Regions from separate parts of the Homo sapiens genome. Here all the other regions are reported to be linked to region 1. Evidence: microRNA targets listed by miRTarBase, many of them from high-throughput screens and not tested one by one. Region 1 holds a microRNA gene; each other region holds the end of a gene's coding sequence.

Evidence for each region. The annotated mature microRNA hsa-miR-4681 reads AACGGGAAUGCAGGCUGUAUCU and lies in region 1 at 2,662-2,683, opposite strand. An mRNA with a match to its seed (bases 2 to 7 or 8) in the 3' UTR can be bound and repressed. Matches are read on the target gene's strand: a 7mer-m8 pairs with bases 2 to 8, a 7mer-A1 pairs with bases 2 to 7 and ends in A, and an 8mer does both.
Region 2: the mRNA of POU4F1 is a reported target of hsa-miR-4681. Seed matches in the 3' UTR shown: 7mer-m8 at 1,221-1,227.
Region 3: miRTarBase lists LRRC1 as a target of hsa-miR-4681. Seed matches in the 3' UTR shown: 7mer-m8 at 3,878-3,884.

Annotation. Positions count from the first base shown.
Region 1 is chr10:119,376,416-119,380,657 of GRCh38, reverse strand. MIR4681 (microRNA 4681) reads right to left here and starts at 2,686; the gene lies at 2,615-2,686. The region is part of intron 2 of GRK5 (G protein-coupled receptor kinase 5); the gene reads right to left.
Region 2 is chr13:78,597,543-78,601,784 of GRCh38, reverse strand. POU4F1 (POU class 4 homeobox 1) reads left to right here. Exons shown (of 2, transcript NM_006237.4): 2 at 1-3,423. The coding sequence ends at 370. The region is part of intron 3 of OBI1-AS1 (OBI1 antisense RNA 1); the gene reads right to left. LOC780529 (a long non-coding RNA gene) reads right to left here. Exons shown (of 1, transcript NR_158457.1): 1 at 2,166-4,242. Among named protein-coding and RNA genes, the nearest start is that of POU4F1, 3.9 kb to the left of the region's middle.
Region 3 is chr6:53,922,548-53,926,789 of GRCh38, reverse strand. LRRC1 (leucine rich repeat containing 1) reads right to left here. Exons shown (of 14, transcript NM_018214.5): 14 at 2,665-4,155. The coding sequence ends at 3,997. Among named protein-coding and RNA genes, the nearest start is that of MLIP-IT1, 74 kb to the left of the region's middle.

The DNA of each region.
Region 1 (4,242 bases):
CAGAGAGACGTCAGTGTAGAAGAAGGCACCAGTGATGACCCAGCCTCTACTCCCCACCCCACACCCCCAGTCCAATGCTCTGATTTCTGTATGGACATGCCAGCAGTTCTGGGGACTGTGATTCCATCTCCTTGGTGGCCATTAAGCACATCACATTCTCTGATTACAGTGACTGGATAAGGGTGGCAGGCCTGTAATGTAAGCCAGTCGAATCAGAGTGGACTGCAGACTCCCTGGGAACACTGGAGCAGAGGTGCTCTCTTCCTCTGGAGGTCATGGTGAGTGGGTGTGAAGCCAGGTGCTGCAGCAGTGTTCTTGACACTGCAAGAAAAGCCGCGATGAGGATGAGCCTGACACATCAAGGAGGTGAGAGCTGGGAAATTAGAAGAAGTAGAGTTGGTGCCCTGGTGATGTCATGAATCTCTGGATCAAACCATGCCTGTAGCTCAAACCATATCTGAAAAGCTGATTTATGAGACAACACATTCTCCTTGTTTAGGGCAGTTTGAACACTTTTAGAAATTACTTCTAATTCAAAGCATCCTAATGGATACAGTTTTTAAAAATCATTTTTGCCCAACTGGAGAAAAGCCCAGTCTTAGGATGCTTCAAATTATGAAAACCCTGACTTTTCCAGTTAGGCACTAAAGGCACAGAGACAGGAAGTCACCCGCGCTTACCCACTCAATAGCCAAGAGGGTTCTGAAGAGGAAATACTGCAAGACTCCCACCAAGAGGCCCAGAGACCATGGTGTTAGCCAACAATTTGCTGTGTTACTTCAAGCAATTCACTTGCCCTCTCTGGGCCTCTGTGTTCTCCTCTGAAAACAAGAAGGGCATGCTGGAGTTGGGATGGGGGCCCTTTCCCTTTTGGTTCTTCCTGCAGTGATGCTAAAGCCTCTCCAAGAAGTTCTCTCTGGCCAGGAAGATACTCGAAGGAACCACTGAAACATGCTGTCTCAGGCTCTCTGGAGCACGGAACACTAGGCCATCGATGTTGCAGCTGCACGGGACACAGTCGGATGAGTTCGTGGGAAACAGGGAAGAGGGCGATAGAGCCTGGGAAGGACAGCAACTTGCAGGGAAGGGATGACTATAGTCTACCTGGTGTAGAGGAGCTAAGACACCATCCCCCCTAGAAAGGATTTCTCTTGAGATACGCCAGGCAACAAGGGGATATGAACACAACCACTGCGCTGGCACACTTTGATTCTTAGTCTCAAAATGCTTATCCACAGGATGTAAAGCTATGGCTTGCCGGGAGGGAGGATCTCGTGGTAGCTGTGAGTGTCAGTGTGGGCTCTGGAGCTAAACTGCCTTGGTTTGAATCCCAGCCCATCGCTCACTGCCTGTGTAACCTGGGGCAACAGGCTTGACACTGCCCCTCAGTTGTCTAGTCTGTAAACTGCGGACGGTAAGCAGACCTAACTCCTAGGACCGTCCCGAAGAATGAATAAGACAATACATAGAAACCACTCAGACCAGATGCTGGCACATTAATAAACCCCATTTCTCATCGTTATGGATGTGATAATTTGGTCTGTTCCATCTCCCTTTCCTTTAGGGAACCTCCTTTCTCCCAGTCTGCACCAATTCAACCCAAGCCTCTGAATCTAAAAGGGGAGCTGACGCCTCCCATGCTACGGAGACAGGCACGTGACTCAGTCACAGCCAATCAAAAGGCCTCTGTCTCCTGGCCACAGTGCTACGGTCACGGATGGACACGTCACTTAGTCACAGCCAATCAGAGGCCTCTCTCTCTGGCCATAATGACAGGTTCAAGGGTGGCCATGCCTCAGTTCTAGCCAATCAGGTCAGGGCCTGTGATCCGTGGGGGCCCCGGAGTCCTCCCAGGGCTTTTGCCAGAACTTCCAGGAAAGACACTGTCTGTTCCCTGGGATGCCAGCAGGGTTCTTGGGGATGACTGGTCAGCCGAGGGCTGCTGAGACCGCCTTCCCCCCACGCAGCGAGAGCCCACGGAGGCGCAGCCCGCACACAAGCGGAGATGAGCGGAGAGAGGAGCCCTGAAGGCAGCCCGCCCTCCCGGGCATTTATTCACCACACGGGGACACGGCCTCAGCACTCCGCTGTCTGCCTCCTGGAACGGAAAGAGCCGCGGCCAGGCCCCCTTCTTTCATGGGTAACCTACCTGAGGGCAAGGTTTTTTTGGGAGGAATTCGCCCGGTCTAAGTAGCGTATGTTGAAGAAGGCACTCTAAAACGTTTCATTCTCTCCCGAGTGAGTATTTGGATCAGCATGGATGAGCAACCTGCCAAGTCCCCTCTTGGCCCACTCTCAAATGGTTTTGTGGCTCCAACTAGCCCTGGACTGCAGCCTAAACTCTGCCCTTCAGCCGTGGGCGCAGTCTCCACCGCTCCCAGCACAGATGGTTCACAAATAGCCACTCCAACAAGCATTTAGCCTCAGTGTGTGCCAGGTTCTGACGGGGAGGGGTACCTAGGGATGTGGTCCCAGCCCGCAGGGAGCTTGGACTCAGATTGGAGAGGTCAGCAGGAGTGTGTGTGGGTGAACAGACAAGATCTCAAATGACAGTAATAAAATGTCAAGCTAGATGAGTGTGATCATCAGCCACAGTAGGGAACCTGGTCTCAGCGGCCTGTGACAGGTCTGCAGCCTGCACCTGTTAGCACAATGCCCTGCAGATACAGCCTGCATTCCCGTTGCCTCCCACTCAACACAATCCCCCAAGGGGAGGAAAACAAATCTTTGCATCCTTTCCCAATCAGTTTTTCCCAGCACAAACACAGAACCAAAGTAAATTACCTTGTGTCAAATTCCATTTTTATTCAATTATGGGAGAGAGCACCATGCTGCTTATGTGATTTAAGCAAGGTACCCCTCTACCCCCACCTTTTCCAAAAGCAGTTTTGAGATTTCATGTGCCATATTGTGATCCCTTAAGGGTTCATTTGACAGATTTTTTTTTCTCTCCATATGGCATTTGCTGTCAGTATGGAAACAAGGCCGTTATAAACTCCCAGCACAGTAAACACCATGCGATTCCAACACAAGCTGTCAGCACCTCAGTTCCGAGCCTCTCCCAGCTGTAGAGAGGATCCCAGGCAAAAAAACTACTCGTTGGAAGCCTAGAGAGAAATAAAAGGACCAGTAATGATCTTTTTAGATTTCTTTCTTCACCTCAAATCAAGATCAATGGGTTCATTTTCTGAGCAAGCACACACACAAAAACAAAATCATCCCTAGTGCAACATTTACAGTTCCTATAGAAATGGATAAGGAGGCCACAGAAGGAAGAATACGAATTTGGGAATGATCAAGGTGACAGGAGGAGGCGCAAATCAAAGTTCTTGATGTATCAAGAGCAAACCCGAGGTATAGGTTGCTTCTGGAAAGTCAATGACATTGAAGTTGGAAGCATGAGAAGTTCTACGATACATGCTTGGAGTGGACCCTTTCGGATCTGTTTCAACAGAAGCTGGCAATGTTGTTGAAATCCAGCTTGGAAGGGGGCCTGCCCACAATCTTTCTCCAAAGTGTGGTCTGTTGGGGTTGGTGAGGAGAAACACCTAGGACAAGGGCAGAAGACTTTTCTCTCTGTCTCCAAATCTATCTTTAGGGGTGGGAGAACACTGGGATGCTGTACACACAGGCACACACACACTGTCCACACACACGCACGCACATACACACACGCACGCGCATGCGCACTTGCTCTTCTAGAACATGGAACTCCTGCTTTCCATGTGCCTCATTGATCTTTTCCTCCAAGCCAGAAAGAGGCTGCTTTATGTAAGACATTTGGGAGTAGTGGCCAGGCACGGTGGCTTACGCCTGTAATCCCATCACTTTGAGAGGCCGAGGCGGGTGGATCACCTGAGGTCAGGAGTTCAAGACCAGCCTGGCTAACATAGTGAAACCCTGTCTCTACTAAAAATACAAAATAATTAGCCAGGCGTGGTGGCAGGCACCTGTAATCCCAGCTACTTGGGAGGCTGAGGCAGAAGAATGGCTTGAACCTGGGAGGTGGAGGTTGCAGTGAGCCAAGATCGTGCCATTGTACTCCAGCCTGGGCAACAAGAGTGAAACTGTGTCTCAAAAAAAAAAAAAAAAAAAAGGCATTAGGGAGTAGGGTATGGGGAGCTCCTCGGCCCCTAAGTATCCACAAATCATCCAGCCATTCTAACTTTGCTATTTTGGGTCCTTCATTCACTCAACAAACTCTCTTCTGAGGTCTCCTGCTTTTTGATACTAGAAGTTTCC
Region 2 (4,242 bases), not on the chromosome of region 1:
GATCCCGGGCGTGGGCTCACTCAGCCAGAGCACCATCTGCAGGTTCGAGTCGCTCACGCTCTCGCACAACAACATGATCGCGCTCAAGCCCATCCTGCAGGCGTGGCTCGAGGAGGCCGAGGGCGCCCAGCGCGAGAAAATGAACAAGCCTGAGCTCTTCAACGGCGGCGAGAAGAAGCGCAAGCGGACTTCCATCGCCGCGCCCGAGAAGCGCTCCCTCGAGGCCTACTTCGCCGTGCAGCCCCGGCCCTCGTCCGAGAAGATCGCCGCCATCGCCGAGAAACTGGACCTCAAAAAGAACGTGGTGCGGGTGTGGTTTTGCAACCAGAGACAGAAGCAGAAGCGGATGAAATTCTCTGCCACTTACTGAGGGGGCTGGGAGGTGTCGGGCGGGACAGAATGGGGAGCTGAGGAGGCATTTTTGGGGGGCTTTCCTCTGCTTGCCTCCCCTCGGATTTGGAGTGTCCGTTATCCTGCCTGCATTTGGGGAGTCCCTTCTCGCTCTCTTTCCTCCACCCATTCTCTGATTTTCCTGCCTTTGCTGTCCCCTAGCCTTGAGGACTGGGGTGCTGGGTGTGGGGATTGGAGTATAGGGTAGGGGAGAAGGGGGGGAGCATTCGGGGGAGTGGGGAGTGGGGGGAAGGAAAGCGGAGACCCGAGCAGGGGTTTTAAGGAGCAGGATGGTTCTGGGGTTTGGGTGGGGGGAGACGCGGGAAGGGTAGGAAAATGGACTGTTTCTGACCAGAGACACTTACCTAAATATCCTGGGGACCAAGGAACTATGTACAAAAACAAACCTACCAACCACCAAAAACTAGACAAATAAAGACAAACTAAAACAAAACAGAACAAAAGCAAAGGAAAATGCTTTAGAAATTTTAACTCCGGGGAGCCATAATCTGCAACTTCATTTTCCCCCATAGAAGAGAAAAAAGAGCACCACCATTATTACCACCTCCCCAACCCTACACGCACGAACTGAGTCGAAAAACGAAAACCAAACGAGCGAGAAGTTGAAGTTCTGGGTATCAAAGCTAGTTGTTCTGTCTGCGTGTTTAATTTTTCCCTCTCTCACCTCCACCCCATCCATATCCTCTTTATTTCCTCCGTTCCAATGAGAGGCCTATGGCTGCTCTCCAATCCCGGGAAGTGAGTGGGAGCACAGCTGAAAAGAGAGGGTCAGGGGGAGGCTGGCTGCTTGCTTAGGTGGAATCCAAGTTTTCCCGTGGCCCTGCCTATACTCTGGTGGCCTGGTCCTGTTGGGGTGGGGGTCTTTGGAGAGAAGGGCATAGTCTTTGAGCTACTAAAAAGCAGAATTCCGGAGCTTCGAGATATCTTATTCTAGGAAAATGAAACAATTTTAACAACAGTTTTTTTTCCTCTTATGTCGAAGATCTAGTTTTAGACAATTTCAAAATAAGCTTTTCCCACTCATAGAACTTTAACTTGCCCTTTCAGTTTTATCTTTTTTTTAGAGAGAGGTTTAAACTACTGATTTTTCCTGTTGATTCAAATAGACTAATGGGGTGAAAGTTATTAGGAGAGATACTCTCTCCTGTTTTCTCCACTGAACGAGACTCATCTTGCTCTTCTAGGTCCCGTTTCTTCCTCTCTTGGAGGACATGAAATTATAGAAATGTTGAGAAGTTCCTGCTTTCTTTTGCGGTAGGACTTGGCTGTGAGAAAATCACCTAAATCCCAGAAAAGAGGAAGACAGATTTAAAGTGCCCCCACCCCCATTTGTTTCAAAGAGGTCTGCATGTTGGGCGAAAACAGAACAACTGTGTTTCCTTTTACTTGTTCTTATTATTCAAGAGTCATTTATTACAGGGGATAAATGTTGGGTAGCAAGAACTTTAATTTGCACTACCAGTCTCCCAAATAGAAAATCATGTATAGTATTTCATAGTAATAATCAGGTACCTTACAAGCTGCTGGTGGATTTTAAAAAATTAAGATAGTTGAAGGTGGTTAGGTAAAATGCCTGCTTTGTGTACAAGATACTCTTTGGATCTCTCGTAGAGATGGTTTGTTACCATCCTTTAATCATAACTAAAACATTGAAAACAGAACAAATGAGAAAAGAAAAAAAACCTGCCGATTAACAAGACTGAAATCATGCATGATCTGAAAGGTGTGGAAAGAAACACAATTAGGTCTCACTCTGGTTAGGCATTATTTATTTAATTATGTTGTATATCATTGTTTGCAGGGCAAACATTCTATGCATTTGAAACTGAGCACTAAACTGGGCTAGCTTTCTGGTAGACCGTTTTGTGGCTAGTGCGATTTCACAGTCTACTGCCTGTTTCCACTGAAAACATTTTTGTCATATTCTTGTATTCAAAGAAAAAGGAAAAAAGATTATTGTAAATATTTTATTTAATGCACACATTCACACAGTGGTAACAGACTGCCAGTGTTCATCCTGAAATGTCTCACGGATTGATCTACCTGTCCATGTATGTCTGCTGAGCTTTCTCCTTGGTTATGTTTTTTCTCTTTTACCTTTCTCCTCCCTTACTTCTATCAGAACCAATTCTATGCGCCAAAATACAACAGGGGGATGTGTCCCAGTACACTTACAAATAAAACATAACTGAAAGAAGAGCAGTTTTATGATTTGGGTGCGTTTTTGTGTTTATACTGGGCCAGGTCCTGGTAGAACCTTTCAACAAACAACCAAACAAAAAGAAAACACAAAGAAATGGGGGGAGGGTAGGGTGTTGAAGGGGGACAAAAAGGGGAGAGATTGAGAATGATGTATTTTTTTGCTGAATCAGAATTCACTTTCAGATAACTCATGAAAAGTGGTGCTCTAAATAAAATGAATTCTATATTAGTTGCCTGTGTTTATAAAAGTTATTATTTTTTAACTGCAGAAACTCTTAAACCACAGCACTTGATCCAGAGTGGTGAAAACCAATAAATAACCAGGCACCCAAAAAACATTTAAATTTAGGGTCAGGGACAGAGGAATTTGGAGGTTTAGATGTGATATTCTACCCTAAAAACACCTAGTAACTGAATGGCTTTTCTTTGGAGGGTAATACATTTTAAAACATTTAGTGTGCCACCTACTGCTCCACAGTGACTAGAGAGCCTCTATTTCTTGGTGACTTGGGACTAGATCAGATGCCAAATGTACAAAGTTTCTTAAGAGTTGAGATTATATCATCTGAAGTCATCTTATTTTAGCCAAATCTTTTTAATTTCACCGGCAAATCTGTGAAGGAAAACACTTGATGTTCAAAAAGAATAGTACATTTTAAAAGCTGCGATTTTAAACAGTTGTTAATGTTAAAAAAAAAAAGCACTAGAGGTATTTTTAAACATAGAACTCTTCCATAAAAAGTTGATTTGTTTTTGCTGTTATTGACTTGAAACATCATCAGTTTTAAATAAAATGCATTTGTAAAAAAACCGTTATTTTATAGAAAAGTATGACTGGATTTCATTGTTGGAAAAACAGGACAGAACAAATGAAAAGATTTACAAAGGGTTTTTTTTAAAGTCTGCCTCAAGCAGAAATGTTGCAGGCAAACACATGTGTATTATATAATAATGATCAATGTAGGTATTAAGAATTTAAGAATTTGCTTTAAATAAAACCTTTACCACATAAAAATAAGAGTATTATGTTAATAAAACATCATGAAAATGAATTTCCTATTTTATGTAGTAGGAAACTGTGCAAAACAAAAAAAAATGCTTTGCTTTCTGGTAAGCGAATCTATATATGGCTTGAAGGAGTAGTAAGACTATTCTAAGACGCCTTTAACTGTCAATCCATGAAAAAAAAACAAAAAGGGACCTCCTGAAGAGGCCAAACTATCATTGAAGTGGGTGTCAATGAGTGATAGTTTGGCCTTTCAAAGTTTTCTAGTTCTGAAGAGAAGTTCACTCTAAGCGGATTCCTCCACCAGTTTTGGGGTGAATATGATAAAATGTGTGTCTCGGATTCTTTTAAAGAATAATCTCAAAATAAGTTTGAGAGAGTGGGAAAATTGGGCTCCGTTTGCATTTCAGCTTCTCAGGAAATCCAGGCGGCGGCGGGGGTGGAATAGGAAAAGCAAAAGACAAATAAGCATTAAAGCATCTGCCACATTTATGCCATCCATTTGTCTTAAATTTCCTCTTTTCCCCAGTTCTAGCTCCAGGTCGTGTTCCTTCTGTAGGTCTAAAAAAATTATGTCCTCAAGACCCATCAACTAACTTCTGAATAATTTTTGTTTAATGCGT
Region 3 (4,242 bases), not on the chromosome of region 1:
TCTCCATCAGAACTAGTGTGTGTCCTCATTCCTGAGAACATACCCATCTGATGACACACTGTTGGCTTGGTGGCAGGAATTGCAGGGGTGCTAATAACACTACTATAACAACAAAAACAGCAAGACCTGTAATAATAGCAGCCACCCACTTCCTGAGAGCGTGTTTTATGTATCCCACTTAATCCTCACTCTAAGCCTGAAAGGACTATTACTGCCCCATTTTAAAGATGAAGGACCTGAGGCCCAGAGAGGTTAGTTTGTCCATACCTACGTGGCAGGCTGGGATTCAGACCTATATCCATATGCATGATTCCACTGGCATATTGACTCAAAAATTGTAACTCCAAAGCAGTTTTAAAAAGCACATTTGCTTGCTTTTCCAGAGCTTTAAAAAAAAATGCTTCATTGTGCACTTTCTTATAGACATATTTTAAAACATAATACATGTTTTAAAAACATGCATTTTTAAATGCCTTAGTCTTGTGTTGCTAATTATTGAAGGTGAGTGATAGCTATAGGAGGGTCAATGATGATTCTACTTTTGTATGTTTTGAATTTTCCATAATAAAGTTATCTCTTTTTTTTTTTTAATTGGCTCTTTGGAAAATTGGATGAGGTAAGACAACAACAATGGTGAAGTGAGATTGCAACTCTCCATGGATGTCACTGAGTGGCAATGTCCCTAATTGCCTTCTATTAATAAGCAGCTGCAATGCAGTCCCTTGTTTGAGAGTGCTGCTGCAGCCTTGCCACACACCAGCAGCATGCCCAGGGCAGAGCATCACTCATTTTCTTTCTTTTTTTCTCTAAGACAGTCTTGCTCTGTCGCCCAGGCCGGAGTGCAGTGGCACGATCTCGGCTCACGGCAACTTCCGCCTCCCAGGTTCAAGCAATTCTCCTGCCTCAGCCTCCTGCGTAGCTGGGATTACAGGTGCCCGCCACCACACCTGGCTAATTTTATGTATTTTTAATAGAAACAGGTTTCCACCATGTTGGCCAGGTTGGTCTCGAACTCCTGACCTTGTGATCTCCCACCTCAGCCTCCCAAAGTGCTGGCATTACAGCTATGAGCCACTGTGGCCGACCAAGCGTCAGTCATTTTACCAGGGAAGGACTGGCTGTTCAGAGTAACTCTCAGACACAGAATTTTCCCAGCCTCCACCCCATTCACTAAGCATGTCTTGTTGGGTGTGGTAGATTTCACAGGAGATGGCAGAAGTGCTGCTATGAGAGGCTGGTGCGAGTGATCCCACCTTGCCTGCTCACCTCATTGACAGCCAGCTAGTATGTTTTTAGACAGAAAGATTGGGTCAGTCAGGACAATTCCTCCAAACTTTCCAGAAAAAAAACAATATCTAGGCAGACATTTTATGATTTCTTACCAATCCCTCTATTCATTATCAATGACTTTGATTATTTCACTTCCTCTCATTTTTTCTCTGGCTATTTTACCCACTGAGACATTATTTTCTTGCTAAAAAGAAGAAATAACTGGCTATGGGAAAAAAAAAAGTGGGTGAACAGGTCATACTAACCTCCTTTCCTGCTTTCACCTGTCACTCCCACAAGACAAACAGCCAGCCATATACTGTACTCCTCCCTTTCCTAAAGGAAGGGCTGGATGGGGACGGGGGTCGTGGTGGGGGGGGGGGGGGCACTGACAGAGAAAGGTATCGTTTCACATAATCAAGTTTTTCTTATAACTATGAGAGGGGCCTTCCTAGAAACGGCTTGGCATGTTCTCAAGGCAGAACTGTCTGGCTGGTGCTGTTTCCACTGTGAAGCTTGAGTTTGGTTCCAGCACCCTGAAGTTCAAGAGCACTGCAGTGTCACCAGCGTAAAACATTCAGATGAAAGCGACATTTCCCTCTCAAAGGAAGCGGGGAAACAAACAAAATCCCCCAAACTGAAAACAAAAAGCAAACTAAGTGAACATGAACTAAAGGAGATAGGCCAAAGGAAATAAACTAGGTGCATGACATTTCCTAGGAAAATTTAAGCACACACACACCATTCTGTCCACCTCCAGTCCAGAAAAGCCATGATGAACTGAGTAGTAAAGGATGGGCTTTATATAAAAACAAACAAAACACGCCATGCAAGTTCTACTTGTTCTTCCACGTCAAGACAATTCTCATTAAATAAAACCAATTTGCTTATATATAATCAGCCCATGAGATAGTGGCATTATCTTTATAAGCTTAAAACAAAATAGAGGATGTCAAAAATCTTAAAACAGAGAAAAGAAAATTGGTATGCACAGATTAGGGAACAAGGTATAAAACTGACCAGCCGAAACTCACTTATGTGTTATGTACTTTCAGCTCCATAAATAGTTTTTAAAATACACACATATTTACATACACACAGACTAAAAAGCTAAGTGAACCCAATAAGTAAATGTATAGAAGTAAAAAAAAGTATTGTATTTGGTTGGTTGAAGACGGGTTTATAAGGAGTCCAATTGGCCAGATAGCCACAACCCAAAATTACTAGCCAGAGTCAAAGGCAATTCTGGGCTCTGCCCCATGTGAATGCAAGTCCCACAGGAGGTCACTCACAACTGACGGGTAATTTAGATATTTAACAGACCAGAGCACACTGTCAAAGAATTTGGCTACCTGCTATCACTTGAACATACAAAGTAATAATTTTAAAAAGCTGTATGGCCAATGTCCAGGATGAATTTATTTCTTGGAGAAAAAAATATATATGATTTTCCTAGACACCACACAGTGACTGGCACTTTTCATTTCTCTTTTATCACAGCATACAAAAAAGAAATCAACAGAAACACACCAAAACTTTTCCCAATATCCCTTAAATTAGCAGATTTAAAATTAAATCTTGAAGCAGTATTTTGTGATACTTTGATTCAAACTCTATTTACAAATTAAATTGCACTTATAAAGATAGCAACATTTCTATTTTGATAGTAGGTTATTTTGCTTTATTGTGGTTGTATATCTGGATATAAAACTTTTAAAGCTTTCTTGAATAAAAATCATTATTTTGCAGTCCATAATTTACTTGCCCACTGAATGTCTGAACCAGTGTTCTCTTTTTGTGTTTTTCTGCTCTATTTTATTTTACAAATGGCACATACCATCAGAGTAGGCACAGTCTGACACTGCACTCATTATGAGAGACTTATTCAGAAAAAAAGTGTAAGGAATAAAATATTAGCAGTCAAATCCTTTGGTTCATCTTTTCAAAAAAAATCAACTGATATAATTACAAATCATTGATAATTCATCTTTTTGGTTAAAAACAAATCCACCAGGTAGATTACTGATTAAAATGCAACACTGCTTTAAAACACCACATTCCTATTCTCATCACACTGTTCAAAGATGCCATTGTTTACAACTGATTGGACATGACACAGGATACAGTAAGGCACAAGTGGATGGTACAAATAAAAACAAATACTTTAGGACTTGTTTTTCTGCACAAATACTAAAATATGTACCGTTTTCAAGATAAAATAACAAAAAAGAAATACATATTTTTGTTATGAAATACCTATACAAAATTTTAAAATTTACACCATCTGAGCTGCCAAAAAAGGTTTAAAAAGTATCCATTTTTCCCCATACATAAAACTATCTCTCATCAGTAGGTCCAAGGGAACTTGGGGGATTCAAAATATCCCAGCACTTTACGGAAGGGAGGAGGATAAAAATTCCCCTTCCTGCTTTCCTTTACCCCAACATAAGACAAAAACAAAGGTCGTATGTTTACAGTAGTGTATTCTACTTATTACAAACAACTGAAATTAAAAAAAAAAAAAATCACACCGGGAGACCACTGGTGCGCTGACTGGTTGCGGGATGAGTAAGGCACTTCCTGGGAGACAGCAGCTTCCCCACACTCCACGGGAAGATGGCGCGCGGGGGCTGGTTAGGACAAGGAGCACGTGAGGCTCCCGGGAAGCAGACAGGAACGTCTCGACAGCAGAGGAAGACACAGGAGGTAAAACTTGGAGGTGAAACTCTACACAGAAGTGGTCACTCGGTCAATGGCATGATTGACCTCGTTTTTGTTTGAGTCCAGTCCTTTAGCAGCATTCATGTCATTCCGTAAATTCTCCACTGTCTTTTTCATGTGCTTTAACTCCCCTGGGTGTGGAGTGGCTCGCCTTAGAAGTGTTCTCTAAAAACAAACAGTGGAGTGAGTGTTTTGGTTTTATTCCACTACTTTTTTCAAAACATGCAGCTTCAAGGCATTAGCATTCCAATA